Regions from separate parts of the Homo sapiens genome. Here all the other regions are linked to region 2. A link means that fine-mapping ties the variant in region 2 to the plasma level of a protein whose gene starts in the linked region. Region 2 holds a variant in brackets. A gene starts in each other region. All regions are shown on their reverse strands.

Region 1 (8,179 bases), not on the chromosome of region 2:
ACGTTTACCAAGCACCATGGCAGAGCCTGGTAGCTATCCCTCAATATCTGCTTTTCTTTCTTATATAGTCACATAACTGTTTTTGAGACAGGGTCTCGCTCTGTCACCCAGGCTGGAGGGCAGTGGTGCAATCATAGCTCACTGCAGCCCCCAACTCCTGGGCTCAAGAAATCCTCTCTCCTCAGCCTCCTGGGTAGCTGGGACACAGGTGCATGCCACCACACTCGGCTACTTTTTGTATTTTTATTTATTTATTTATTTGTAATTAATTAGTTTATTTTTTGAGACGGAGTTTTGCTCTTGTTGCCCAGGTTAGAGTGCAATGGCGTGATCTTGGCTCACTGCAACCTCTGCCTCCTGGTTCAAGTGATTCTTCTGCCTCAGCCTCCCAAGTCACTGGGATTACAGGCATGCACCACCACGCCCGGCTAATTTGGTAGAGACGGAGTTTCACCATGTTGGTCAGGCTGGTCTCAAACTCCTGATCTCAGGTGATCCACCCACTTTGGCCTCCCAAAGTGCTGGAATTACAGGCGTGAGCCACTGCAGCCCTGCCAATTTTTGTATTTTTAGTAGAAACGGGGTCTTGCCATGTTGCCCAGGCTGGTCAGGAACTCCTGGGCTTAAGGGATCCTGCCACTTTGGCTTCCCAAAGTGCTGGGATTACAGGAATGAGTCACTGTGCCCAGCCAGGAATGTAACTTTTAGCTGGGCACACAGCCAGTCTCCTATGGACTATATTTACCAGGTACCCTTGTAGCCTTGTGACCACGTGACTAAGTTCTTGACAAACAGGGTATGAAATGTGATTTTGGAAAGCTGATGTGGTTGAAAGCCATTTTGCACCATGAAGGAAAGGGCAACGGCCTAGAGTTCGGACAGCAACAAGACAGAAGTAACCTGTGTCCCTGACACCTCAACTACGGGTTGCCACATCATCCCTGGTGGCTTCTGCCTGGACTGCAGGTGAGGGAGGAATAAATTCTATCTTGTTTCAGCCATAATTAATTTGGGACTCTTTGTTACAGCAGCTGAACCTGTATTCTACAAATCTAAGTGGTGACTATGTGAGAAGCACTGCTAGAGATCATTATATATAGTAACTCACTGAAAGCTCAAAACAGCCCTAGGGGATGTGTACTATTAATATGCCCAATTTAGGCCTGGCAGTGGCTCACACCTGTAATCCCAGAACTTTGGGAGGCTGAGGCAGGTGGATCACCTGAGGTCAGGAGTTTGAGACCAGCCTGGCCAACATGGTGAAACCCCATCTCTACTAAAAATACACAAAATTAACCAGGTGTGGTGGTGGGCACCTGTAATCCCAGCTACTTGGGAGGCTGAGGCAGGAGAATCACTTGAACCCAGAAGGGAGAGGTTGCAGTAAGCCGAGATCATGCCACTGCATTCCAACTTGGGCAACAAGAGTGAAACTCCATCAAAAAAACAAAAACAAAAACAAAACAAAACAAAACACCCAATTTAGAGATAAATAAACTGAGGCTGGGCATGGTACGTCTGGCCTGTAATCACAGCACTTTTTGGAGGCCAAGGTGGGAGGTTTGCTGGGTGTGGTGGCATGCATCGTAATCCCAGCAACTCAGGAGGCTGAGGTGGGAGGACGGCTTGAGCCCAGGAGTTTGAGGTTATAGTGAGCTGTGATTGTACCACTGACCTCCAGCCTGAGTAACAGAGCGAGACCCTGTCTCTAAACAAATAAATAAATAAATAAAAAGAGATAAAGAAACTGAGGCCAAGATCATACAGAGAGTTAAATGACAGAGCTGGGATTTGAACTCAGGCAGTCTAGCACCAGAGTTCTTAACACACATAAACTGCCTGGTCCTAAAAGAGTGCTGCAGAAACAGCTCTGGCCATGATGATTATTACTGCATGCCTTCTCCCTCCCTCTAACCCAAAGCCTCTTTTTCCCCCAGGGCTGCTGGTACTTACTTGGCCACCACGGAGTCCCCGCTGTCAATCAGGGTGGGTGCTGGGGAGGCCCACATCTGTCCCTCAGTGGTGCTGGGCAGGGAGGGGGTCCCTGAACTGGATGGCCAGGACTCCTCAAACAGCTCAGGGGAGTTGGGACCTGTGGCTAGAGCCTTGGGAGCTTGTGGGAGCCTGGATCTCTGAGACCTGGATGGGCTCAGGGTCTAAGATCAGGGAAGAGCACAAGAAGAAAAAGTGTGAGGTCTCATGGGTCATCCCTGCAGGGGAACCAGGACACACACAAAGTCTCAGTCCAGAGGGGAGGAAACACATCCTGTAATGATAACAACCTAGTGTGATGGGGGCTCAGATGGGGAATCCAGGTGGTAGAGAGGGGGACAAGGGCAGGGCCGTGGGGAGGGGACAAGGGGCTGTCTCTTAAATCTCTCATCCCTATCTCTCATCACATGTCTTCCTACCCTCTAAAGGTCATTCTCTTGCTACTGGGCTGGCACTCAGCACTCTTTGAGGGGTGTCCTCACCTTGGGACACCAGGTCTGGCTCTGGGATGGCCAGTAGTGGCTTCGACCCAGGGGCGCATCTCCAAAGGGACTATCTTGAATGGAGAAAACTGGCAGGCTGCAAGAGGAAAGTGGGGTTCAGGCAGCACGTGGTTTCGCCGCAGCCCTGGGGAGGGGGACATTAGAGGAGGGCAGAACCAGACAATTCCCATAGATTCCTGGAGGAGACGGACTGTCATTTCCATGAAGCACCGTTGCACATTCAGGATATCGACAGTGGAAGGGTGAGTCCTGGGAGCCCGCCCCTGGAGCAGTCTTAACAGGGAGCAACTCAGGAACTGACAGCCGGTGGTTCTCAACCCTGGATCCAGTCTAGGAGGGGCTTTTCAACGTTACAGGCGCGCGGTTCCCATTCCAGACCAACAGAATCAGAATATCTATTAGTGGGGCTGGGCCTCCGTGTCTTTTCCGCAGCGTCCCAGGTGATTGCGAAGTGGAGTTCAGGTTAAGAATCGCGGCTCGCCGGGCGTGGTGGCTCACGCCTGTAATCCCAGCACTTTGGGATTACACCGAGGCGGGTGGATCACTTGAGGTCAGGTGTTCGAGACCAGCCTTACTAACATGGCGAAACCCCGTCTCTACTAAAAATATAAAAAATTAGCCAGGCGCGGTGGCAGGTGCCTGTAGTCCCAGCTACCTGGGAGGCTGAGGCATGAGAATTGCTTTAACCCGGGGGCAGAGGTTGCAGTAGCCAAGATTGTGCCACTGCACTCCAGTCTGGGCCAACAGAGCGAGAGACTCTGTCTTAAAAAAAAAGAAAGAAAGAAAGAACCGCGGCTGGATTATATCACCGAGCATTTCCCATACATTCCTGGGGGACACGAAGGCAAAGGGTAGATGGACTACAAGCCCCAGGATCCACTGGGCTCCGCCTCCGCGAGAAAGTTCAAAGACAACGCCCAGGCGTGTCTGGGGGCCATTTCAAAATGAAGAAATTCAGATCTCAAGCCTTTCTTGGACACCTTTAGAGGCAATAATTCCTTGGGGCCCACTCAGAGAGGAACATAAGACTCTTAGGGGACCCCCGGGATGCTAACGGCTACGGCTGGAGAGGCCAACGGCTGTGGAGCATGTTGGGAATTGTAGTTCCAGTGCGGTGGAGCCCTAGCGACTCCAGACCGTATCCAGCCCGTCCTAGGCTGTGCTGCTCTCGCCGTTGGTCCTCCCCAGCCTCCTGTAGTCCCTGGAAGAGCGATCGGCCTCACCTGCGGTCCATCCCGCGGCTCCCTCCGCGCTTCCGGCCGCTCTGCTCCTTCACCCAACAGGCCCCGCGCGCATCTCCGTCGCTTAGCAACGCCCTATCAGCCCCGCCCCTCTCTGTGCCCGCGCCGGAGGCGAGCGGCCTCCAAGGCGACCAATGAAAGAGAGGAAACAGAAGTACCCGGAGGGAGGTGTTTCAGGATTGGCTGGGACGACTGCCTGCCCGACAGGGCGTGTTTGATTGGAGAACCTGCCGAGTGTAGCAGTAATTGGCAAGACCGTGCACCAATGGGAAGGATCTGAGGCTGGGCTTGCGGTTAGGAGGTGATCTAAAGTACCCTCGCTTAAAAGTCCCGCTTTTTAAGCGCCTTCTTGCTGCAGAAGTCCTGTCCCGACCCCGGTCTAACTACCATTCTTTCTGTTGCAGGGGCAGTGGGGCGGGTTGGGGGGGGGGCGCGCTCTGCCCTCTCTCTAACCGCTATTCCTCCATCAGTTGGGCCAATCAGTCCGTCCCAACGGTCATCTAACTTCTTTCTTGCTGCAGGAGCAGCTGGTTGCATCAGTTGCCAGGTCTGGGCTCCTGGCCGAGGTAGCGGGATCAAAATGAGCTATTTCCAGCCCCAGCGCGCGGCCCCCGGGGGGCCAGCCTGAACTGTTCATGCTCGCGCCCCCTGGCCTCTGCGCACCAGAGGCTGAGTCAGAGGCACAGAATTAGGCCCGGCCTGCCGGGGGACTGGGCCCAAGGTCTGGCTGAGGATAAGGGTAGGGAGGGCCTGTTCTATGTCCTCCTGACATCCTGGCGGGGCTACCGCATTCTCCAGGAATCTGCTCCTAAAGACCTCCATCTGCGTCATCCTCAGAGCTGCCAGGGGGGAGGCAGTGGATTAAAGGGACTGGAAACTCTTCCGTGGGCCTCTTGGGTCCTGGGCCCCAATCACCACGCTGTGCTCCCCACACCCGCAAGGCTCCCCCTCCTCAGCCTTAGTTTCCTCTTCTGGAAATTGGGGAATCTTCATGTCACCTTCTTGACAGCATTTGCCAGGCATCCAGCAGGCGCTTAATAAATGGCCAAGTCATTGTTTGGGTTTCTAAATAAGGCTCTCCTAATGGCCGGGTCTGGCCACGGTCCCAGTGTCCCTGGGCAGCCCTCCGAGGGGCCGGCACAGGGCGCACTATAAATGAGCGGCTGCGCACGCAGGGGCACTGCAACGCGGAGGAGCAGGATGGAGATCCCTGTGCCTGTGCAGCCGTCTTGGCTGCGCCGCGCCTCGGCCCCGTTGCCCGGACTTTCGGCGCCCGGACGCCTCTTTGACCAGCGCTTCGGCGAGGGGCTGCTGGAGGCCGAGCTGGCTGCGCTCTGCCCCACCACGCTCGCCCCCTACTACCTGCGCGCACCCAGCGTGGCGCTGCCCGTCGCCCAGGTGCCAGGCCTGGGGAGGGGTGAACTCGACCACTTCCATTGCCAGGGGTCTGGGGCAGCCTGGGGTGGGAACATGTGAGAGAATGTTCGTTGGCCTTGGGCGGGGTGGAGAGTCCGCAGCTCCGAAGGGCTTCCGGAGTCAATGGGAATCTGAGGCCCGCACACTGCAGCGGGTGGGAGGTCCCCGTCGCTCTTAGGTGGGGGGCGGGGTGGGGGGCTCTCAGCTCTCCAGAGAATGGAAGGCCTGGGTCACTCTAAGGGGAGTCTTGCTTACTCTGAAGGAGGCTGGTGATCCGGGAAATCTGGGGAAAAGGAGGCGGGCAGTGACTCCTGAGGGGAAGGAATGTTCTTAGTCTCGGGGAAGAGTTGAGAGACTGTGTGCGGTGGCCCGATATCTCCAGAAGAGGAGGGGAGAGGGCCCTGCGACTTGAGGAAGGGTTCCCGGCCACTCTGAAGTGGGGGAAGGCTACCAGTAGCTGCCGAGGTCCCGTGACTCGAGTGGGAGAGTAGGCAGAGGACCCTGGAGACGGGGAAAGGGGCATCTTGGCGAGTTTGGCGGGGCTGGCGGAGAAGGGACCCGGGGCTCTGAGGAGGGAGCTGGGGAATCAGTGCCCTGGGGGGCACGATGACTTCGGATTCGCTGACACCGGGGGAGGGCAGAGGTTCCTGACCTTGCAGGGGAAGGGAGCCTCATCACTGCGGGGGAGAGGGCAATCCCAGATATTACAGGGGGAGGGCGTATCCCTGTTGTTCAGGGTGAAGAGGTCCTGGGTGACTCCCAGTAGGAGAGCTGACTGCTCAACTCCGGAGGCCAGAGTGAGCCGCGGCACGGAACCGACGGGGGTGGGGTCTCCCTGGGTGGGTCCTGGAGCCTGGCCCAGCCCAATGACAGTCCCGCCCGCGCCCGCTGCGCTCAGGTGCCGACGGACCCCGGCCACTTTTCGGTGCTGCTAGACGTGAAGCACTTCTCGCCGGAGGAAATTGCTGTCAAGGTGGTGGGCGAACACGTGGAGGTGCACGCGCGCCACGAGGAGCGCCCGGTGAGCCGCGGCGTGGGGCGGGGCTGGAGCGGGTACGCTCGCCGCCGGGCCGGAGGGGCGGGGCCGCTCAAGCCTCCCTCCCCTCCAGGATGAGCACGGATTCGTCGCGCGCGAGTTCCACCGTCGCTACCGCCTGCCGCCTGGCGTGGATCCGGCTGCCGTGACGTCCGCGCTGTCCCCCGAGGGCGTCCTGTCCATCCAGGCCGCACCAGCGTCGGCCCAGGCCCCACCGCCAGCCGCAGCCAAGTAGGAGGGGGCTGGGCCGCGCCCGCACCCCGGGAGCCTCCTCAGGCTCCCTCTATTAAAGCCGATCTGACTCCGCCCAGCCAGATGTCCCGAGTGCGCCAAGGACTGTCCTCTCACCCACTCCTGGATTCTGCCCTGACCTCCATCCTGGACACTGCCTTGATAACATAGACCCTTCCACTGACACCCTCGCTCTCACACCCCCTCCAGCTTTCCGACCCCACACCGACAACTCCCCGGCTTCCAGACCCTACCAGCACTACCCTAACCCTCAGCCGACAGTCTCAGCCCCACCGACCCACTTTCTTGGCATATAGCCCCACTTAAGACCCCTCCTCTACTTCCTTCTGAGTCCTCTACAAAGACATCCGGGTACTACATTTCCATCCCTTCCCTATTTTGACACCAAATTATGGTGTAGACAGCCCTCCCCCAACCCCAGGCCAGTCAGGCACAATCCCCCCACCCCCCAAACGTCCTGGACTGCACAGACCTCCCACTCCAGACCATCCAGGCCTGGTTCCCAAGACCCGATCCTTCCCCTGCAACCAGACAGTCTACAACTGCCCCCTCCAGCCCATTTTCTGCCGTGAAACCCCAGCCAGCCACACCAGACTCTGGAACCCTTTTTCGACTGCCCCAACTCTTGGACACCAGGCCAACTAGAACACCCAACACCAAACTGTACAGACTCTCCCACCCCAACCTCCCCAGACTCTGCACGGATGTCCTAGGCCCCCTCCCCAACTCTAACCAGACCCCATCCCCCTAAGTCCCTTTGTCTTGACCCCCAAGTCTTCAACCAGATATCCTCGGCAACCCACCTCCCACCCTCCTCCTCTTCTCCTTCAAGACCCAACTGAGCACCCGCTCTGATTCCCCACAGCCTTTCTCCCTGCCACCACTCCCTTAGTCTTTCCCAGGCTTACTCTCCCAATAAATGTGCTAGAGCTCTGCCAACTGCTTTGTGCCTGGGCCAGGAAGGAGGGACCGGAGCAGACACCAGTGTGGAGCTGGGGGATGTTTACTGGTGTGGGGGGACCTGGGAACATCACTGTCGTTCGTACATCTCTCGTAGGATCTTCATGCTTTCTGAGTAACGAAGCTGGTTCCGATGAGAGGCCTCCTTCCACCTGGGGAGGCAGAGGGGAGACTCAGCAGTTGCAAAGGGCCCTACGAGGGGCAAGCAGGCTGGGGGACGCTCACCTCTGGCGGATGCGTTTCCAGCGCTGCATGTTGCGATAGATGAGTGTGGAGGGTGAGGGCTCGGGCTCAGAGGGCTGCATGGACAGACAGGCCAGGTTGAGTGGCCATTCCTGAGCCCTACCGCATGTGCCCCATAACCCTGGGCCAGCCTGGCATACTCACCTCATCGTCAGGGGTGCCCTGCATCTCAGGCTGCAGTGGAGATGGGATGCGGGATCTGCAGGCATCTCCGGGTGGCCCCGGGGGTGTGGGTGGCGGCAGCTTGTACACATCACGACTCTTGCTGTTGGTTACCTCTGAGCCCTGGGGACACAAGGGCCCCATGCCAGGCCCAAGAGAGTCAAAGCAGAGGGGCTGGGAATCCACATTCATCCCTCCTGCCTTTCCCAGCAACAAATGGCATGAGGGGCTCGCTAAGGGACTCAGACAGGAGGCATGTATGAAGGGCAGACACCTCAACCAGCCAGCGGGTCAAGTGTGCCTGCCCCAGGGACCCCTGTCTTCTCCTATCCAGCCCAGAGACTCCATCTACACCTGTCAGCCCAGGGAGTCGC
Region 2 (8,179 bases):
GTACTCTGAAAACATATTACATCTGTAATTATGTAACTATTTGTTTTCTACTATCTCTGCCATTGTTCTGTGAGGACAAGAACCATGTATCTTCTACTTATCACTGCATCCACCAGAGACAAGCATAGGGCATGACACATATATATTCACTGATTGATGGGCAGTTGAATTTCTCCTTCATTGTTTTGCCCTTTGATAGTTTCTTGCATGGTTAGCATATCTACCCAACTAGATAGTAGTTATGTGAAAGCAGAAATCATATCTTCTATTCCTCTAAAATCCTTTCTAATGGTCTTCTGTTCAAATCAGTGTTGATATCTGTAGGATGTTAGGTTGTGAATTTGGAAAAAAAAAGTAAAGGAAAAGATAGAGAAAGAAGAGTGTTAGTGAAGAGTTGTGATGATTTTTCCACAGTATAGTTCTAAATACACATTGAACTATATGGAATTGCCAAATGTGACTATTTTTGGCATATTTCATCTCAATTTCATTTGATTCCATCTAACTACTGGAGAAACCAAACCAAATAAAACAAAAACACATGGCAATTAGGGTGGGCAAACTGGAGTTTACATCATAGCTCTGCCACTTGCTAGCTTTAGAATCCTGTATAAGCTTCCAATACTTACTGGGCTTCAGTTTAGAAATGGGCATAAGACCATTTTGGAGGGTGGTTGTGAAGATTGGATGAGCTGAGGGCTCTGAAATTCTCTAACCCATTACGGATGTTTCACTTCCCAATTATCTTGTTCAAGTATCTTGATGTTTCATTGTCTCAATCTGCTCAACAAAATTGGTAAAATAAATTCAACAGGTTGTTATAAAAAATACAATTTAAAGCATTTTGCTATTTGATCCCCTCAATAATGCTATGAGGTAGTTATTGTTCCCATTTTACAAACAAGGAAACGTAAGTGTGGCTCATAGCTAATGCTCATAGCTATTACATTATACTATACTGTATTATACTATAGTTTTTATAGTGTTTAAAAATTCAATTTGTATAAAAATTTATACTGATTCAGACAACAAGATATGGAGCTAGTATAGGAGATAGAAAAAAGCATGGGGTGTGTGTGTGTGTGTGAGAGAGAGAGAGAGAGAGAGAGAGAGAGAGAGAGACTGAGAGGGAGGGTCTAAAGATGTCTGTGTCTGACTTGCGTCATCCATTTTTCTTTTCAATGCAGGAATAAGAAACTAGTATGTGTCATACTTCCTAAATCTTTGCATAACTAACCTTCATTTGGTAGGAGCATGAGGTGTTTATCTCTCAGTCAGTTTGCAGATCTATTCACACTATAAGTTTGACCATTTTGAATAAAAGAAGGGTAATAGTACAAGTTTGTATCTTTTTTTCCATTTAAGGAACTTCTGCTTAATCATTTTAACAAACTGATTTCAGTTCTGACTCTGATACTGTTCTAAGAGCTATAATGTATTAGCTCATTTAATTCTTTTTTTTTTTTTTTTTTTCTTGAGACGGAGTCTCGCACTGTCGCCCAGGCTGGGGTGCTGTGGCGCGATCTCGGCTCACTGCAAGCTCCGCCTCCCGGGTTCAAGCCATTCTCCTGCCTCAGCCTCCCGAGTAGCTGGGACTACAGGCGCCCGCCACCATGCCCGGCTAATTTTTTGTATTTTTAGCAGAGACAGGGTTTCACCGTGTTAGCCAGGATGGTCTCGATCTCCTGACCTCATGATCCGCCCGCCGCGGCCTCCCGAAATGCTGGAATTACAGGCGTGAGCCACCGCGCCCGGCCCTCATTTAATTCTTATAACAACCTCTTACAATAGATACTATTCCCTTGCCTTTTCAGATAAGGAAACTGTGGCACAGAGGGTTTTAGTAACTTGCTGAAGATCACACAGTTGGTATGTTCTAGAGCTAAGATTTTCACAGAGGTATATAGGCTCCAGAGGTCATGCCATTTCTCTCTGTGCTATTCTGCCTTCTAATGATTTATTAATTTTGTATATTATTAGCTGAAAACTCTTACTATCTGGCAGATGTGTTCTTATGAATAAATGATTACAGTTAATGTTATAGAAATACCCCTGAGGGTGCCCCAACAAAGATACTTCCCTAATTGCCACTAATTGCACGATTAAATTTTTATTCTTTTGAAACACAAATTACCTTCTTTAAGATGCATATGGTGTGTGAGAATATAAGGCTAGGTAAGAATGCTAGGATTGGAGAGGAGGAAAACGAATTCTGGAGCATTGGCTAATTGCTGGGCAGTTAAGACTGGATTTGATGACTTCTTAAGGGGAAGATAGAGGGGGAAAATACAGACTTTCCTATCAGGTTAGATAGTCACAACAATGAGATAGTTTGTATGAGTTCCAGTTTTTGAATGATGAAGCTGAAGATCAGAAAGGTTAAGGATTTTCCCATGGTCACATAGCTGCTAAGTAGCAGAGTATGGATTGGAAATATGGGTGTCAGACTCCGTATGTAAGTGCCATTTCTTCCATTACTCTGATTATCTTCTAGGGAAGGGGAGAAGTTGGTGAAGAGGTATATCTACAATCTTAAAAAGGAAAATAGGAGAGTATAGAGAAAAAATTCTTTCTAATTTTCTTAGGTGGCCTTGCTTTTGACTTTTCATTTATATTATTTTATTATAAATTGATGACAAGTTGTAGTCCTCTGTATTCTGCTTTACTTGAACATATTTTATTGATTGGCTGTGATGCATAAAGCATTGTACTTTTTGCTGTTTATGTCTGCAGTTTCAGTATAAGATGGGTAGGGGCAGAGGGATAAACACTTTATCCTTCTAATCGTTCAGGGAAACTACGATCTGATTAGGGAAATAATCAATACATGTTTTCCTGGACACAGACTACATTTTTGAACCTGGCATGCAAGGCTATTCCAAATTGAATCACAACTTTCTTGTTACCCTCAAAACTCTCTCCTCCTCACCTTGACCTCATCTGACAATTGTCTGGGAACATCCCGCTGCCTACTTAAGCCTTGGTGTTTTGGTAAGCAGAGTTTTTCGGATTTTTTTTTTTTTCAGTTGAGGGTGCCCTCCTACCATCTAACACAGATGCTAATTAGCCAGCAGCTGAGGGGAATCGGTCATATGACCTAGAGTTTGCCAATTAAATGTTCTCATTTATCTCTTTGAAATTGAGCAAATGATACAGGAATAAAAGGTCAGAATTAATTCATCATGGTGTTAGATGGGATCGAACAAGAGCCATGCTCAATCATGTCACAATGCCAGCAGGAATACTGAGGATAGTAGGGGGTCCTGGCTAGACTATTTCTGCCAAGAGATAGTTATTCTGCTTCCCGTTTCTGGGCCCATTGTCACTGCTTTGATTCCTGTCTCTCTCTCAAGCCTGGCCCTCTTATTAAACATTGAATCTTTGAGCCCTGATTGTCTTTTCCTAAGTCCCCCTGTGTTGCTGCAACCAAAATAGCTAATTGTCTATTCTCTGTTTTCAGACTGTGAAACCTTTTTCTCAAGCATCTTCTGGTATTCTCATTCAGAAGTGACTACTTTTCTTTGCGAAATGTGCTAGTTACTATGGAAAGTACATTAAAATGCAGATAAATGATTTGAAAGAATATTATTCTCTAAGAGTTTAGTATGGTATAGTATAGTATAAAATCTTTTTATAGTACAAGAAAAAGATATACTCTGAACTTAACTGGTGAAAATTTATTGTAAGTATTTAACAAGTGATCTTCTTGGGTGCCTGCCATTTTTCTCTTTCTTTCCCTTTTTTCTCTCCTCACTAATTCATTCACTAAATATCACTGAGCTGCTGCTTGGCATTGTTCTTGGCTCTGGGGATATAACAATGAACAAGGCAAATAAAGTCTTTATTCTAATGTAACTTCTTTTTTAGTGCCTAGGGAGAGAAAATAAACAGGTAAAAAAAATAAAATTATCATTTCAAAAAGTTATAGAAACAATATATCAGAGTAATGTGGAAAATTATTGGGTTGGGTACACGAGTGTGATTACATAGAGTTTACACAGGGATATTTAGGAAGGCTTCTCTGGGAAGATTATGTTTAAGCTGAAGTTTGAATGATAAAAAACCAATCTTACAAAGAATTGAAGAGGAGTAATCTAGGTAGAGAATGTAGTGCATGCAAAAGTCCTGAGGTAGGAATGAGCATATGTTTAAGTCCAGGAAAGGGACCAGCGTGAGGAACGTAGTAAGGTGTAAATGTCAGGAGAGGAAGAGGGGAAAGGGCCCTTTTACACAGGGTCTAATGGGTCGCTTTGAAAAGTTAAATTTTACTCTAATTTTTCATAGAACACTCTACCCCCATTCTGTATCTCTGGATTTCAACTTTCCTAATTGGTAAAGATCTAACTGAGTAGATTGTGCACCACCTTAGTTGCTTGTGTTAATTAAGAGAATGCTGACTTCTTCGACAGATAATCCTCAAAATCTTGGTCATTTAATACTGAGTGGAAGAAAAATGTATTTCTTACTCCACTAAATTCCCAAATGGTATTCCTGATTAGTGTTGGGGAGCTCTATTTTACTCAATCTGATGAAAAATCAGACCCAGACTGATGAAAAATTTACCATCATTAACACAAGGCTTTCATGTTTGCCCTGAAGGTAGAAATTTAGGCTGGGGTGGTGTATTAGTCTGTTCTTACAGACTAATACCTGTCTCAGGTATGCTAATAAAGACATACC[CG/G]AGACAGGGTAATTTATAAAGGAAAGAGGTTTAATTGACTCACAGTTCAGCATGGCTTGGGAGGCCTCAGAAAACTTACAATCAAGGCAGAGGGGGAAGCAAAGACATCCTTCTTAACATGGCAGCAGCAAGAAGTACAGAGTGAAGGTGGAGGAAAATCTTTTATAAAACCATCAGATCTCATTCTCAGCAAACTTTCGCAAGGAAAAAAACCAAACACCACATGTTCTCACTCATAGGTGGGAATTGAACAATGAGAACACTTGGACACAGGAAGGGGAACATCACACACCGAGACCTGTCATGCGATGGGGAGAGGGGGGAGGGATAGCATTAGGAGATATACCTAATGTAAAGGACGAGTTAATGGGTGCAGCACACCAACATGGCACATGTATACATATGTAACAAACCTGCACATTGGGCACATGTACCCTAGAACTTAGAGTATAAAAAAAAAAAAAAAAAACCATCAGATCCCGTGGGAACTCACTCACTATCAGGAGAACAGCCTGGAGGTAATCACCTCCATGATTCAATTACCTCCCACTGGGTCTCCCAGGACAGATGAGGATTGTAGGAGCTACAATTCAAGATGAGATTTGGGAGCGGGGACACAGCCAAACTGTATCAGGTGGGTTGGGGACTGTGCGGAGAGAGGAGAGCGTATGATCTTAAGGAAGGGTTTGATGGGCTAACTGGAAGTGATAAGCACCACTTTTCACATCCCTTTGGGTAGTTCAGTCTCATGGCCACACCAAACTGCCCAGGAAACTGGAAAATGTTGTCTAGATAATACCCAGGAAGAGAGGCAAATGGTTCACTCAGTCGTGGCCTGAATAATGAATTGCATGGAGCTGCCTAACTTGGTAGGTAGGCAGTGGAACACAGAGCAGTTGGCAGGCATTTTGAGCCTTCCTACCCCATAGGAATGGGGAGTGGGTAAAGAGAGAATGTGTTTTGTAAAATGAAATTCAAGTAAATTTTTTTTTCTAGAATAATACTAAAGTTTAGATAATACACACTGCAGAAAAATATAGTGATTCTCAATGGAAGTAACATTTCCACAGGGGAATTTAGTGGATTGAATAGTGTCTCCTTGAAAACATATGTCCAAGTCCTAGTCCCTAGGACCTGTGAATGTGACCTAATTTGAAAATAGGATCTTTATCATATATAAGTTAAGGATCTTGGGATGACATCATCCTGGAGTTGGAGGTCCCTGTACGTGGCCAAAAAATAAGTTCTCCCTTAACATTGTTTTCACTCAGTCTTTTTTACATACCCCCACATCCCTTCTCCCAGGAAAGTGTCTCCTCTTATCATTTGATGCCTCAAAGATTGTCTGTAAAACACGATCAAAATGTATTTTGTCAGTTCAGCTTCAGCCAGCATCTAGGCCCTGCTGCAACTTGCTCATCTCTCCCTCGTTGTAATCCAACAGCCGGAACGGAATGAACCTCTGTATACTTGTGATGATGTACACATCCAGTCAAGCTGAAGCTGCTGATGTCCCTGGAGGCCAAAGCAGGGTATTGAAAGGAAGGGAGGAGAATGATTCTCCCTCAGCTTTCTGGCAACTGAGGCTCAAAGTAGCAGTGCCAGTTCTTAGACTTTCACTAAGTCCCTCATGTGAGAGGGTCTGTCATGCTCTGGTCCTAACTCCTCTCTCCCTTAGTATCTCTCACACAATCTAATGTGCTTTGTGGCAGCAAACATGGTCCCATTGCCTGTACTCTCTTCATCTCTTCCATTGCCTCGGCACCTCTCTTACAAAAAAAAATAATAATAATAGGTTCTCCAGCCAAAACAAAAGCCCTATGTACAGTAATTTATATAAAGTGAACTCTTGGAAAGTGGGTGAAATATTATATACCCACAAATAGCTCCCCTCCAGGAAATGTATTCACTGCATAAGGAAAAACTAAAAAAAAAAAAAAAAAAAAAAAGAAGAAAATAATTTGCTATGTTATGGATGTGTTTTGTCCCTGCCAAAATTCACGTTGAAGTCAAATTGCCAGTGCAGCAGTGTTGGAAGGTAGGGCCTAGTGGGAGGCTTTTGGTTGGTGGTAGTAGATCCCTCATGAATAGATTAATGATGTCTCTGTCTCTCAGGAGTGAGTGAGTTCTTGCTTTCTTGAGAATAGATTAATTTTCACCAGAGTGCATTGTAAAGCACAATTTCTCCACTGTTTGGTCCCTCTTTGTACACATTCACTTTCCTTTCTGCTTTTCTGCCATGAGTTGAAGCAGCACGAGACCCTCACCAGAAACTGAGCAGATGCCTATGCCATACTCTTGGACTTTCTAGCCACCAGAATTGTGAGCCAAATAAACTTCTTAAAAAAAAATAAATTACCCAGCCTCAGGTAATTTGTTATAGCACCGCTCAATTATGAAGACAGGATTGTGGGCATAGAGCAAATATAAAGTTGTCAGAGATAAATGCCTCCTCCCCAAGGCTAGTCCTATTGTGCTCAGTAGTCTTCGAATTTGTACTCCAGCTTTCATATGACTTGTTATTATTTCTTATGCCTAGAGGAAGTCCACTTCTTTGTCTTGGGAGGGATATTAGTTGATGAGAAGTTTATAAGGCGTAGCTGCTGGGCTTTAGCCACAGGATTTGGGTTGAGAAGGAAAAGAATGGAATCTGGTGATTGCAGTATCCCCATGAAACAGGTATCAGGAGAGTTCCTAACACCCTCTTGGATTTAGTCTTCTGTACCTGTAGAGGATAAAAGCAGACCTGCTGAAAGAGAAGGGATGCCAACTGTAGCTAAGGAAAGAAACCAAGAACAATAGCAGAGGAAAAGGACAGTGAATTAAGCTTAAGGAATGAATTCAAGGTCAGAAACAGAGAACAGGAGCATGTTGTGGAATTAAGAGTGATATGTTGCTATGGTTTAAATGTGTCCCTCCCAAAGCTCATGTTGAAACTTAATCCTCAGTGCACCAGTTTTAAGAGGTGGGGTCCTTAGGAGGTGATTAGGCAATAAGGGTTCTGCCCTCATGAATGGATTAGTGTCTTTATCAAAGGGCTTGGGGAAGGGAGTTTGGTCTGTTTTGCATTTCTTCCATGTAAGGACATCTAGACAGTGCCATCCATGAGAAATGAGCCCTCACTAGATCCTGAATTTACCAGCAATTTAATGTTGGCTTTCCTAGCCTCCAGAATTGTGAAAAATAAATTTTTGTTCTTTATAAATTACTCAGCCTCAGGTATTTTGTTATAGCAGTACAAATGGCCTAAGACATAAATCAAATATACATAGATGCTATTTATTCATTTGCTACGGCTACTATAACAAAATACTGCTGACTGCGTGGCTCGAACAACATAAATTTATTGTCTCACAATGTCTCACAGTTCTGGAGATAGAAGTCCAAGATCAAAAGCTTAGCACATTTGTTTTTCCTAAGGCCTCTCTCCTTCGCTAGCAGATGACCACCTCTTTGCTGTCTTCACATGGTCTTTCCTCTGTGTGCACGCATCCCTGG
Region 3 (8,179 bases), not on the chromosome of region 2:
TTATATTTCTATTGGACAGTGCTGCTCTGAAGGATCAAAAACAAAATGATTCATTGAATTCAAAGTGAAAAAAAATATGAACATATTCTTTATCAGAACCAAATTAGGCCGGGGATGGTGGCTCACACCTGTAATCTCAGCACTTGGGTGGACTGCTTGGGCTCAGGAGTTTGAGACCAGCCTGGGCAATATGGTGAAACCCCATCTCTACATAAAGATGCAAACAAAAATTAGCCAGGCATGGTGCTGCACAGATGTAGTCCCAGCTACTCGGGAGGCTAAGGTGGGAGAATTGCTTGAGCCCAGGTGACGGAGGTTGCAGTGAGCTGAGATTGCGCCACTGCACTCCAGCCTGAGTAACAGAGCAAGACTCTGTCTCAAGAAGAAGAAAAAAAAAGCAAATTAAATAAAAACAATAAAAACCTAAAATTATTTTCATATAATTTTCAAGCGTTCTTTTCTTTCTAAGATATTCAATGTTTCTATTAAAAATAAAAAGAAATATAATCATTGACTATCGAAGTTTTAAGACAAAATGATCTAAATGAACCTGAAAATCTTGTCATTTTTTTGAAAATTTTGTTAAATCTCATAAAATTTTGTTATAGGCTGGGTGTAGTGGCTCATGCCTGTAATCCCAGCACTTTGGGAGGCCAAGGTAGGAGGATTGCTTGAGCCCAAGAATTCAAGGCCAGCCTGGGCAACATAGGGAGACCTTATCTGTACAAAAAAATTTTAAAATTAGCTGGGCGTGGTGGTGCACGGATGTGGTCCCAGCTACTTGGGAGGCTGAGGTGGGGGGATCGATTGAACCAGGGAGGTCGAGGCTGCAGTGAGTTATGATCACACAACTGCACTCCAGCCTGGGTGATACAATGACACCCTATCTCAACAAATATAAATAAATAAATAAAATATTATAAAAATGAAACTATTTACAAGTCTAGTAGCCAATGTAAAGAACTGTCATTATGTGTTACGCTCATTACATCTAGACCTACATATATATGCTTTAAAGAACACTATGGGGCCGGGTGAAGTGGTTCACGCCTGTAATCCCAGCACTTTGGGAGGCCGAGGCAGGTGGATCACCTGAGGTCAGAAGTTCGAGACCAGCTTGGCCAATATGGTGAAACCCCGTCTCTACTAGCTGGACATGGTGGCGGGTGCTTGTAATCCCAGCTATTTGGGAGGCTGAGGCAGGAGAATCACTTGAACCCGGGAGGCAGAGGTTGCAGTGAGCCAAGATTGTGCCATTGCACTCCAGCCTGGGCAACAGGAGCAAAACTCTGTCTCAAACAAACAAACAAAAAACCACTATGAACTGTGTAATATACGAAAATATTTCTCAGCTATTGCAACTGTCAGAATACCATGCTAATTCTGGAGTGCCCCCAGAACTGTGAGGTGAAACACAGACATCAGGACGCTCAGCGCTACCAGGTCCTTTATACTATCTGAGTAGATATACTTGACAAATAGAATAAGCCCCCTTTCTTCACCGGGAAGCCCTTCCATAGCTCAAATCCTCCTAGTACTCCAAAGCAGTGTCCACCTCCAAGGTCAGTGGCAGCACAGCCCACCAACCTTCATTTAATTCATATTTAGTTACCTTTGATTTTGAGAACACAGAGCAAGAGAAAGGGAAAAGCATTCTCTGTGGCCTGTGGATGGTTTTAATTACAAAAATGGGTAGAGTTACAGTCACACTTTGCCACTGCTGAAAGCCAGATCCCAAGAGAACAAAGCACCTACATATTCTTCTTCTTTTTTTTTTTTTTGAGACGGAGTCTCGCTCTGTCTCCTAGGCTGCAGTGTAGTGGCACAATCTCGGCTCACTGCAACCTCACTGCAACTTCTGCCTCCCGGGTTCAAGCAATTCTCTTGCCTCAGCCTCCCAAATAGCTTGGATTACAAGCACCCGCCACCAAGCCACCTGGGTGAGCTTGTTGGATGAGAATGGGGGCACCCTAGGCTTAGTCTGCCTGGGAGGTTGAGACTAAGAGGGAGTTGAGCTGCTCTGCATGACAATAGGAGGACTCTCGAGCCTGTTGAGGCACTCGGCTCTAGAGAGGAGGGGAGAGATGACGAATGAAGAAAAAGGAAGGCTGTGACAATCGCATGTACAGAGAGGAGCCTCATGAACACAGCAGGACACAGAAAGTCCTTGGAGATGGGGCCTAGCCAATAATTTTCAAAGAATGGGGAGGTTAAACCTTGAATGTGGACTTGTCTCCTGCTCTGTGCTGCAATCCCTCTGCCCCACACAATCCCTTGGGTGAGTGATGGAGGAATAATAGAAGATGGTGGTGTCAAGCTCAGAATGAGGTTGTAGGAGTGATAGGCCAGAGAGTGCCAGCAAGGGTGGAGAGGCCACAGCAGAATTGACTTTGGAGAAATGAGAGCCATCCTACTATTCTTTTCCCAGGGATAAACAGTCCTCTGAGATGTTGGAGAGGGCTTTGGACTTCCTGCAGAACATAGGCCTCAGTTTCTCTTGCTTTGCTTTGCTTTTTAATGTGAAGGAAAAGAGAGCCGTCTGGGAGAGCTGCAGACTTACAGCCCTTGGATCCGGCCTCTGGGTGGGCAGGGAGGCCTCTCCCCTGGGCTGCAGCTGGACTCAGCCTCCATGCATATTCAGGTATCCACAGGGCACTAAAAGCCTCTGGATCTTCTGGACCCAGAAAAGTTTGGGTCCAGGACGGCAAACTTCATATGTTAGTTTCCCCTGTTGGCCGCTGGTTTTGAACTCTTGACATCAAGTGATCTGCCCGCCTCGGCCTCCCAAAGTGCTGGGATTACAGGTGTGAGCCACTGCGCCCAGCCAGTAACAGTTGTTTCTACAGGATTATACTTGACCTGCATGAATGGAGCTTGCTTTTTCACAGAATCCTAGGAAATCTCCTTGGAGTTGGGAACAATTGGACACATCTCTCAGTCCAACTGATGCTTACCTGGCTCGCTCCCATCTTGATGGGATGGTGTGTTTCCTTCATCTACATGAGGCAGCTCTTGGGGTGTCTCCCAAGGTCCAGGTTCTGCCCTTAGTGTTGTGCAGAGAATGTTGGTGTTTCCCCTTAGCTCCTCGAAGACAGACCAGGTATCCTCTACCACCACCACCACTCTTTTCTAAGAAAACCTTCCCAGGGCTTCCTTCAGTTCCCCATAGTAAATGATGGTTGTTTTTTTTTTAACCCTTCTCTATCCTTGTCACCCTCTTTTGGGCCTATTTTAATGTGTGAAGGATTAGAGGAGGGGCCATCAGTCTTCTGGTTAACCACATGTAGGGTCTACTTTACTGGAGGTGATAATCCAACAACCCACCAAATTCTCCTCTTGACTTCCTGTAAATTAAGTCATTGAACGTTTCCTAGATGGTGTGAAATACTCTCTCTCTCCCTCTCTCAGTCATCTAGCTAGCTCAGATGTCTTTAGATATGTTATGTTTGCTCCCTGCTGAAGCTGCATCTTCAGAGCTCCCTTTTGCTTCCTCAGCCCTTGACTGGGGCTGGGGCTGCCCCCCAGGCTTTCAGCTAAGGAGAAATCTTTCTTCTCTATCTTTGGCAATTCCAGCATCTCTGACTCCCTTAGTTCTTGGGGTAAGTGCAGAAGGGCCTTTCGACCTTGCTGTTTTGACTCCAGCACTTGACAGCAGGGACATTTGGACTCTGACATTCTGACTTCATTGTACACTCAGATTCTGTGTATTTGCCTTGGGAATTTTCCTCACACCAAGAAATCAATAAAAGCTAAGTCACTTAGCAATGAATAGTACTAGTAGAAATAATTGCTATAAATTAAACTGGCAGTAGCTAATGTAGCAAATTGTGAGGAAGATCTTTGGTTGGGTGAATAAAGTTTCAGAGGACAATATAATGACCCCAATGCAAGAAGATTGTGTTAAGTGAAAGATGTGGGAGCCTGGTGCTTCCTTCCCTACTTCTCCCAGTCCTTCACACACTAAAGCATGCCCCAGAGAGGATGACAAGGATGGATACGAATGGAGAACCACGTCATTCATTATAAGGAACTGTAGCAAGCCCTGGGAAGATTTTACTAGAAAATTAGAGGAGACTGGGCAGGATTTTGCCCGTAAGTATTAAAAAGCGGGGCTACATTGGTAGGGCTTGGTGGGAGGGATCCCAGAGCAAAGAACTCTGGAGCCATTGAGGAGGAAGGTTGACAGAAGAAAGGGCCAAGAAGAGAGACCTGGGAACGACTGTTAATGACTGTTAACGTTAAATATATATATATATATATATATATATATATTTTTTTTTTTTTTTTTTTTTTTTTTTTTTGAGACAGGGTCTTGCTTTGTCACCCAGGCTGGAGTGCAGTGGCACAATCTTGGCTCACTGGAGACTGTTAAATATTCTAATACCACCAAATTCTTTATCTCATTCAGTCCTCATAGCAATGTAAGAGGAGGATATTATGATCATTATCCCCACTGAAGCCCAGCATGGTTGGGTGCTTGCTGGGGTCTCACTGGAAGCCACACAGCACAAACTCTGCCCAGAGTTTCATTGATTACCCTGTGTGATGTGGCATCCATTCCATTGGCCTCCCAGAGATAGCTCCACAAACTCTCAGAAAAGACTGGAATAGAGAGCTGTGCCAGTGGGCAAACCTCCCCTGTTCTAGCTGTTCTGGGACAGGGCTCAGGGCAGGGCCTGTAGACACCTGGCTTCGTCCATCCCAGGAAAACAAAGTTGGAAAATTCCTGTCTGTCCCTGCCCTGGTGGCCACATGTCCTGCCTCTGTGGCTGGGCCGGGGACAAGCGTGTAGGCTTCAGGTACAGGGCTTCCTAAGTCAAGGGTTTCAGGTCGCACTGGAAAATCATTTTGCAAGCAGATGTCATAGGTCTCCTCTTAGACTGGACGGCACGCAAGGTCAGCGTCAGCAGATCTGACCCTAAAAATAGGCCTCTGTTGCCAGTGGGGGTGGCTGGGCGTGCGGCTGCTACATGCCCCACGGACCAGAACCTCCCGACGCGGCCAGGCCCCGGCACACCCAGGTAAGGCCGCTGGGTGGGGAGGCCGGCACCCCTTGGGTTCACCCACGTGTTCTTTGGGGGCCTGGGTGTGGGGATTAGAAGCCCCTTTTCCACCCTGTTCCTGGTGCTGTGGGGAATAGCCGACCTCCTTCTAGTGTGAAAGGTTTCTTGCTGTCCTTTTACGAGAGACACCATGGAATTTTCTCCATTTCCCTTTCTCCAAATCTGAACTTCCAGTTCAACGACCATTTCTAAAGGATAATGGGGTGGATTAAAGCTCATCGAGCCCTTGTGAAGCATTGGATGTATTGTATCATATTCCACATTCCAACGAGGTTCTACGTTTGTCCATTTAGCCAGTAAAGGGGGAGAAATCTCGGGGGCGAGAGAGAGAGAGGCCCTGGAGTGACTCGGATCCTGTGTAGGGCAGCATCAAAGACAAGAAAGTACTTAAAGCTCCAGGGATGAGAATTCTCCCTGTGTCCCAGGTAACACAAAAGCGTCATTTGGACAGAGTGGCGGGTTTGGGAGCATTTCTCAGTCCTGGTGGGAGGATGGGGTTGGGGATGACGCTGCCGTGGTAGAGATGGGGGGTGGGACTGGGTCATGAAGGATCAGAGCCACTGGACCAAGAGTGTAGGCTGTACCGCGTGTGGGCAGGAGGCGGGATGGGCCTGTGTCTCAGACCTGTGTGGGCAGGAAGTGGGACGGGCCTGCGTCTCAGACCAGGGCTCTCCCATTAGACCCTGGTGCCCTTGTGCTGTGACCCCAGGGGTCCCTTCATGGGCCTGGAACCCAAGAACAGTTGGGCCCGGGGGCTCTGATCGTTCGGGAAAGCGGAAAATGCTCCAGCGAACAGGAGGAAGGGCACGAGGAGGATGTCTGGAGAGGTTGCCACACTCACGGCCGCCAGCACCTGAGGGTCCCTGGCCCTGGATGTTTTTTCCGCTGCCCCCACCTTTAGCTTGTGATCCCTCCTTGTTCTCATCATGAGAATATCATTTGGTCCCACCGACAAATCCGAGGACTCTGACATTAATAAACAACACTTGAAGGGCTTCTGAGCTGAGTTCTTAACAAGGAAGGCGCGTTGGGCATGGAGGCTGGGGTGGACATGGGGTGGGTCTGAGGAGAGTTAGTGGGAGTGAAACAGGAAAGGTTCCTTTGTCCCTCTCACAGGGCATGCGACGGGGGTGTGGCTCGCTTGTTCAGTACCCAGCTGCTCAGACCTCTAGAGGAGCATACAGACGGGCAGGCTGTGGGGCTCTGACCCCATGGCAGTGTCTAGGGGTGAATGTTTACAGCTGAAGCCCCAGTGGGTGTGTGTTACAGGGTGCTCTTTTAGTTTGCTGTCTATAGGCGGCTTGTGTTAACTGGCTCAATTAGACCTCCTTCCTTATCACAAGGACAGAGGGATTTCTGTATCCTGGGGTTTCTTGCCTTGGTGTAGGGGAAGAATCAGATCACATGTGGGCTTGGAGAAGAGTGCAAGGTTTTATTGAGTAGAAGTAGCTCTCAGCAGATGGGGGAGCCAGAAGGGAGACAGTTTTTCCCTGGAGTTGGGCCACTCAGCAGCCGACTCTTCTCCTCCAACCGCTCTGGCCAAACTCCGCATCATTCCGCTTGTCAATGGCCTGCAGGCCTGCCAGTGCCTGTCGGCGTGATCTTCTGCCGGCGCGCTTTTGACAACCAGCCGCTTGTGTCTTCTGCCTATGTGTTCCTCAGTACGTCCAGCCGGTTGTGTGTCTCAGGTTTTTATAGGCACAGGATTGGGGTGTGGCGGGCCAGGGTGGTCTTGGAAAATATAACATTTGGGTGCGAAGGCAGGAGTGCCTGTCCTCACCTGGGTCTGTGGAGGTGGAGCCCTGGCCAGGGACCTGCCTTTCTCTACCCAGCACTTCCTGGCCCTCCTCCGGTATCAGGATCTCACTTGGCTCTGAAGGATCTTCATGGGCAAAGGCAGATCTGCGCTGAGGGTGAGGAGAGAGCCAGTGGTCCTCTGCCATCAGACAAACTGGAGCCCTTACTGGGGACATTTCAGTCATGGCTGACACCTGGGTTGGGTGGGAACCTGGTCCTGTCTGCGGGTGGCACTCCCGTGGCTGTTGTTGACCCCACAGTAGATGAGGGGCTTAGGGGAGGCCCTGAGGCCAGGGGCTGGGCTGTGAGCATCTTCCAGCAGCCCCAGGGAGGCCCAGTTGAGTCCACCAGGGTGGGGGTGAGCAGCCTCCACCAAGCCTTCCCCAGACACTGCGGCCCCGAGGCCTGGCGGTGTTTCCTGTGCTATGTGTCTGGCACTGTTCCAAGAGCTTTCCTGACAAGCAGGAATCATTTATTCCTCAGAATTGCAGCAGCTTAATGAGGGATGGACAGCACAGCCCCATTTCAGATTGGACACGGAGACACAAATACTAAGTGTTCTGCCCAAGGTCATGCAGCCTAAACAGGGGCAGAGGCCAGAACCCAGCGTGCCTCAGAGTTTCGGGGTGTAGCCCCTTTGCTCTGGTGCCTCTCATTGGGGTAGAGGCCTGGTGGCATCTCACTCTCCTACTCCTCTCAACCCCTAAACTCCAACCAGGGCCCCTGTCTCAGGGAGGCCCGGCCTGGAAACAGCCACTCCAGGTTCCTGGGCCAGGAGTTAGCTGTTTGTCCTCTTCGGCCTGATTTCAGAGCAGATGGTGTTTTAATCTCCTCTTCTGGTGACCATTCACGTTTCTGGGCCTACCCGTTCCACAGTAACGAGGGGGTCAGATCTCCTAGCAGCCTGACACAGCGACCAGAGGCTGACTAGCTGGGGAGAGTCCTTTCTCCTACTCTCTTGCATGTCACGCAGGAGGCGATGGGTCCTGTCACCCACAGGACAATGCTCAGGCTCACATGAGTCCATCTCCTCCGCCACAGCTTCCCTACCAAGACCTCCGCCCCGGCCAAACTGCTCCACCCACTCTTTCCTATTCTCGGTTGGGAACACAACTCCCAGTACAGCTGGGAATTCCCCACCCACCCTCCAGGCCGCCTCCTTGTCTCTGCTCCCTGAAACCCTCTTTGAGCTCATGCGGATGTGCCAAGGGCTTACATTATCTCATTTAATTCAGCAACCAGTGAGGTGCAAGTTATCCCCATTTGACAGATGAGGAAGCCGAAGCCCAGGTAGTGAGATTCCAAGGCCCATAAGAGCT

Which allele goes with the higher level. Alleles are on the strand shown, and positions count from the first base shown. The strength of an association depends on the size of the effect and on how common the allele is.
As copies of G replace CG in region 2, the plasma level of the protein whose gene starts at base 4,916 in region 1 goes up (weak association).
For the plasma level of the protein whose gene starts at base 4,948 in region 3, allele G in region 2 goes with a higher level than allele CG (weak association).

What was found. A credible set is the group of variants that fine-mapping cannot tell apart. PIP is the chance, under the fine-mapping model, that this variant and not a neighbour inherited with it causes the effect. Protein levels are from antibody-based Olink assays in UK Biobank. Linkage for the fine-mapping came from a reference panel and not from the study's own genotypes, which makes the PIPs less certain.
Region 1: it holds the start of HSPB6, and the variant in region 2 is the best candidate, but not a certain one, in a credible set for the plasma level of the HSPB6 protein (UK Biobank, PIP 0.62).
Region 3: it holds the start of DUSP29, and the variant in region 2 is the best candidate, but not a certain one, in a credible set for the plasma level of the DUSP29 protein (UK Biobank, PIP 0.69).

Annotation. Positions count from the first base shown.
Region 1 is chr19:35,753,766-35,761,944 of GRCh38, reverse strand. HSPB6 (heat shock protein family B (small) member 6) reads left to right here and starts at 4,916. Exons shown (of 3, transcript NM_144617.3): 1 at 4,916-5,134; 2 at 6,051-6,173; 3 at 6,262-7,379. The coding sequence starts at 4,937. The coding sequence ends at 6,423. It overlaps LIN37 (lin-37 DREAM MuvB core complex component), which reads right to left. Exons shown (of 9, transcript NM_019104.3): 7 at 7,788-7,928; 8 at 7,626-7,699; 9 at 7,426-7,552. The coding sequence ends at 7,471. PROSER3 (proline and serine rich 3) reads right to left here and starts at 3,769. Exons shown (of 11, transcript NM_001367856.1): 1 at 3,719-3,769; 2 at 2,475-2,571; 3 at 1,954-2,156. The coding sequence starts at 3,729. RefSeq lists enhancers at 3,425-3,484, 3,525-3,764, 4,093-4,664.
Region 2 is chr11:22,175,397-22,183,575 of GRCh38, reverse strand. No RefSeq gene overlaps it. Among named protein-coding and RNA genes, the nearest start is that of ANO5, 14 kb to the left of the region's middle. The variant CG/G (reference allele first, on the strand shown) is at 4,681.
Region 3 is chr10:75,070,411-75,078,589 of GRCh38, reverse strand. DUSP29 (dual specificity phosphatase 29) reads left to right here and starts at 4,948. Exons shown (of 4, transcript NM_001003892.3): 1 at 4,948-5,021. RefSeq lists an enhancer at 1,742-2,325.